Linked DNA regions of Homo sapiens: region 1 is linked to region 2. A link means that fine-mapping ties the variant in region 2 to the expression of a gene that starts in the linked region. Tissue or cell type: Th2 cells. Region 2 holds a variant in brackets; the other region holds the start of a gene. All regions are shown on one strand. Distances are between the middles of the regions.

Region 1 (2,500 bases), 110 kb after region 2:
GAATCAGAAATACATCCTCATTAAAAAACAAAAAGGGCCGGGCGCGGTGGCTCACGCCTATAATCCCAGCACTTCGGGAGGCCTAAGCGGGTGGATTACTTGAGGTCAGGAGTTCAAGACCAGCCTGGCCAACATGATGAAACCCTGTCTCTACTAAAAACACAAAAAATTAGTCGGCTGCAGTGGCGCGCGCCTGTAGTCCCAGCTACTCGGGAGGCTGAGGCAGGAGAATCGCTGGAACCCGGGAGGCGGATGTTGCGGTGAGCCGAAATCGCGCCACTGCACTGGGCAACAGAGCGCTACTTCGTCTCAAAACAAAAAAGGCGTTTTACAGTCAGGCAAACCCTGCCTCTGCCCAGTCCAGCGCCCGCCTCGCCCTCCTGCGCCGGTCGCTGCTGACCCGGGGCTCCACCCACGTGCGGTCCCGGGGGTCCCGCCTGCCGTCCGTCCACCGCGCGGTCGCAGTCAGAGCTCGGCTCGGGGCGGACACGCATGAACGCGAGTGAGAAGCGGCGACTGGACGGCGGGCGGCAGCGTGTCCCGCGGGCCGGGCACTCGGGTGCGCTCCGGCGTCCGGTGTGTGTTTCCTGGTCCTCGGGGGCGCTTCCCCCGGTGCTTCCTTTTGCCGTCGGCCTCACTTCCAACCGAAGGTCAGGACGGCAGGCCTCGGCCCCAGGGGCGACCCTTCCACCTGGGAAAGGTGGGCGCGAGCCTCCAGCAGAGACCGCCTTTACCCGCCCCGCGTGGGAAGCGCCAGGATCGCGAGGAAACGCGACACGTGCATCGCGACGGCCCAGGCACGGAGCCGCAGGAAGCTGGCACCTGACGCGCCTGCGCCCACCCAACTCGAGTTGGTGGCGCGTCACCTTCCCCTGGGATCGCCCGCAGCAGGGGCGCCCACGCACGTGCCAGTCCACGTGGCCCCGCCCTAGCGACCGTTGCTAAGGGGCGTGGCTCAGCCGCACGGAACCCGAGCCCCCGGCGACTTATAAATATTTGCGTATTCAAATGAGGCCTGGCTCCCGTTGCTATGGCGCCCAGGCCGCAACCCCGCGGCGGCCGGAAGAACAGCCTGGAGTAGGAGACAGCGCCTGGAGGTGGAGGGCGCCCAGGGCCGAGCTGCCAGGGCCGGACACCTAGGCTGAGCCCTCAGGTGAGAGCCGAGCGCACCCTTGGGGTGGGAGCCGCAAGCCTCGCCCTATGACCGGTGCCAGGAGGGAACCTGCGCCGAGGCGTGGGCGCGGGGACGAAGCAGCACAGCCATCGGGGACCCAGTGATGGCCCCGCATGTCAGATCTGGTCCCCTGAGGACCCTTGCCTCCACCACCCCCTGGCCCTGCACTGAAAGGGCTCCCTGTCAGGAGACAGGAGGGGCCCCAAGCCCTGCCCCTGAGGGAGACTCAGAGGCAATGACCCAGGGTGCTCAGGGTTCCAGGGTGGGGCTCAGGAGGGGAGCGGGCTCTGCCTTCCGAGCCCCCATGGTGAAGGGGCGAGGGCAGCAGGGGACCCAGAGGTGATGGCTACCCACCAGGGAATGGCACTAGCAGGGGTGTGGAGACAGGCCCCCCAGTTACCAATTTGGGGAGCATGGGGGCTTGCAGAGGGGACACAGGGTGGGAGCAGGGCCGTGAAGTGTGTGGATGGGTTCAGGCCTGGGTGAGAACACTAGGTGCAGTGTCTGAGGTGGGAGTTCAATGGGGTCTTTGGATCCCACAGCCTCCAACCCCTTGCACCCCCAGGCCTTGGGGCTCAGACCAGTCTGATGCTTGGGGCTCTTGGGCACAGAGGAGACAAGGGTAGCTGACTCAGCCCTTAGTGTCACCCATAGGTGTCCAGGGGCTGCCCGTGACCCCGCCAGCTCACGCCCTCCATGAGGCTCGAGGCTGGCAGGCCTGGGATGGAGGTGGCCAGAGTCTTTGGGGGGATGCAGTGTTGGGGTCCTGCTGTGAGGCCTGGGGCCTTGCACTGGCTGGAGAAAGGCAGGCAGTGGGGGAGATTTGGGCTGGAAACTCCATGAGATTCTGCTTTGGGCTTCACTTCTTTGATCCTTGGTGCATGGTCACCTTCCAGACCAGGCCAGTGAGGCACCCAGAGCCTGAGCCACTGCCCCGCTCCAACACTCCCACCCACCACCTCTGTCAACAGCCGGCCAACTCGCCTGGCACAGGGGCAGCTCTAGACGGGATGGAGAGGATGCATCTTCAGTGTCCACACGTGGTCAACAGATAAAAGCCATGGCCAGAACGTTCTAAGTGGCTACATGTGCATCTGCCTGTTCACGGATTCCTTCGACAAATATTTGAGCATCCCCTCCTGCGACTGTGGACAGCAGAGGAGCACGCAGGCCACGTGCAGGCCACGTGCAGCCCACAGCTCTGGGGCGAGGCAGGCCCTCAACCGAACACGTAGTAAGACACACAGGGCTCCGAAGGGAACTCGTCTCATCAGGAAGATAAATCTGGGAAGGCTGGGTGGGGAGTGCAGTCAGGGGATCAGTCCA
Region 2 (2,836 bases):
CCACCAGGAGAGACGTGGCCCACAGCAAGCCATGGTGCACGCCTTTCCCAAGACGGATGGGGGTCAAGAACCAGCATCTACAGGGCCAGACGTGGTGGCTCACCTGAGGTCAGGAGCTCGAGACCAGCCTGGCCAACATGGTGAAACCCTTTCTCTACAAAAAATACAAAAATTAGCTGGGTGTGGTGGTGCGCACCTGTGGTCCCAGCCACTCAGGAGGCTGAGGCAGGAGAATTGCTTGAACCCAGGAAGCAGAGGTTGTAGCGAGCCAAGATCATGCTACTGCACTCCAGCCTGGGCGACAGAGCGAGACTCCATCTCAAAAAAAAAGTAAAGCTGCAGCCAGCATCCCTCTCACCTCGCCTTCCTAATTAGTGAAATGAGTCTTTCTGGCTCCATCAATCCATATGCACCTTTTTTTGGCCAGGTGCAGTGGCTCACGCCTGAAATCCTAACACTTTGGGAAACTGAGGCAGGAGGATCGCTCGAGCCCAGGAATTCGAAACCAGCCTGGGTAACACGGTGAGACCCCATTTCTACAAAAAATATTAAAATTAGCTGGGTGTGGTGGTGCACGCCTGTAATCCCAGCTACTCAGGAGACCCAGGAGGTCAAGACTGCAGTGAGCCAACATTGTGCCACTGGACACCAGCCTGGCGACAGCAAGACCCTGTCTCTGTCTCTCTCTCTCTCTCTCTCATATATACATGTATACGAGGATGTGTGGGCAGGCAGACCCAGGAAGACACCAAGTGCATTTTCAGCATAAAGAGCAGGTGCAGTTATTCCCAGGACAAAGCCATTTCTGCCAGTGCTGTTATGCGCCTGCAAATGCATGAAAAAGCCTGGGAGGCCACCAGACTGTCTTGATGCTACCTCGGGGCCCGGGATTCAGGAGCTGGGCTCACTGCAGGCTTTGCTCACATGTCTCTAGATTGGATTTCCACTTGCTCTCAGCAGAAATTACTTTTAAAATTAAAAGAATGGACATTGCCACTTTAAAGGCAGTGGAACAAGCCCTCGTGAGTTGGGTTGGAGGGAGCCTGGCGCCGGCCCTACCTGCCCAGGATGAAGGCGATGTAGATGAGAGACGAGAAATGGGTGAAGAACTGCAGTGTGAAGAAGCGGATGGTGAACCTGCTCTCTCGCTCCGAGAAGGTCCTGGGCATCTCTGGAATGGGACCGGCCCTCACCTCTCTCCCTGCTCATAGGAGAGGCCCTGGGGCAGCAGGAAGGGTCCCCTCCCCTGCTCTCTGACCACAGCCCCAAGGCCCCAGCCCTGAGTCCTCCCGCCGGGTCCCCCAAGAGGGTCTGGGGTAGTCCTCTCACCGAAGTCACAAAGCTTCAGGGCCACGCACCTGTTGATCTGCGGAGGAGGGCACCGAATGGGCTCACTGGGGCTCCGGTGGACCCCCCAGCTCGGGCCTGCCCTGCTCCCGGCCCCACCTTGGTCATGATGATGATGGTCACATAGTGCACCAGAGCCCCGGTCACCACCACGGCCGTGGTCACCTGCTCCTCCAGGAAGGGCACGGCCGAGCTGCTGAAGAGCGCGGAGGCCAGGACGCGGTAGACCACCAGGACGTGGGCCATGCCGATCATGAGGCAGATCTGCGGGACAGCTGTGGTGGGCGGGGGC[C/T]GGGGAGGGCATGCAGCCCGGGTCTCCAGCCCCACCGCGGTGTCCCCTGCGTACCATGAGCAGGGTCAGGACGAGGATGACGGTGCTGCGTAGGTAGGAGTGCTGGTATGGCCGGAGCTTGTAGTCGGGGCAGTTAATGAGCTGAAGTGCCATTTCCTCCTGGGGAGAGCACCGGGCAAGCCTCAGACAAGGGACACTCACCCCACATGTGGGGAGACAGACACAGAGACACACCTCACGGGTGGACAGACACGGGACACTCACCCCACACATGGGGAGACAGACACGGGACACGCACCCCACACGTGGGGAGACAGACACAGGGACACGCCTCACGGGTGGACAGACACGGGACACTCACACCACACGTGGGGAGACAGACACAGGGACACGCCTCACGGGTGGACAGACACGGGACACTCATCCCACACGTGGGGAGACAGACACAGGGACATGCCTCATGGGTGGACAGACACGGGACACTCACCCCACACGTGGGGAGACAGACACAGGGACACGCCTCACGGGTGGACAGACACGGGACACTCACCCCACACGTGGGGAGACAGACACAGGGACACACCTCACGGGTGGACAGACACGGGACACTCACCCCACACATGGGGAGACAGACATGGGACACGCACCCCACACGTGGGGAGACAGACACAGCGACACGCCTCACGGGTGGACAGACACGGGACACTCACCCCACACGTGGGGAGACAGACACAGGGACACGCCTCACAGGTGGACAGACCAGGACACACGCCCCACATGTGGGGAGACAGACTCGGGACACACACCTCAGACACGGCAGGCATATGTGGGCCGTGCAGGGCATCGGGCGCCAACAGCCCCTGCTCGGGTCGGCCTCAGCTGCGCTGCCAGCTCCACCTCACCTGTTCCTCGTCCCACACGTACAGGTCCCAGTGCAGGACCACGCGGGCGCGCTGCCGCTTCCAGATCTCCAGGAACACCGTGGCTGCGGCGGGGGCAAGGAGGGGCATCACTGCACTACGCCAGGTGGACCTCGGAGCTTGGGCTGGCACTTCCCCTGGCCCCGCAGAGGCGTCCCGCAGCAACTCACCCCAGAGAGCCATGAAGATGGCGAACACCACCGTGCCATCATTGTCAAAGAGGTGGGTGAGCTGGGGGGGTGATAGGTGGGCCGGAGAGGAGGTGGGTGAGCTGGGG

Direction of the effects. Alleles are on the strand shown, and positions count from the first base shown. SD is a standard deviation of normalised expression in the study named.
For the expression in Th2 cells of the gene that starts at base 1,075 in region 1, C is the high allele of the variant in region 2 and T is the other (large effect, 1.6 SD a copy in Schmiedel 2018).

What was found. PIP is the estimated chance that this variant, and not a neighbour inherited with it, causes the effect.
Region 1: LRRC56 starts here. The variant in region 2 is fine-mapped to the expression of LRRC56 in Th2 cells (Schmiedel 2018, PIP 0.95).

What each region holds. Positions count from the first base shown.
Region 1 is chr11:536,453-538,952 of GRCh38, forward strand. LRRC56 (leucine rich repeat containing 56) reads left to right here and starts at 1,075. Exons shown (of 14, transcript NM_198075.4): 1 at 1,075-1,153; 2 at 2,146-2,408.
Region 2 is chr11:427,029-429,864 of GRCh38, forward strand. It overlaps ANO9 (anoctamin 9), which reads right to left. Exons shown (of 23, transcript NM_001012302.3): 10 at 2,730-2,790; 11 at 2,542-2,624; 12 at 1,694-1,798; 13 at 1,447-1,611; 14 at 1,330-1,366; 15 at 1,060-1,171. Among named protein-coding and RNA genes, the nearest start is that of SIGIRR, 13 kb to the left of the region's middle. RefSeq lists an enhancer at 1,518-2,717. The variant C/T (reference allele first, on the strand shown) is at 1,640.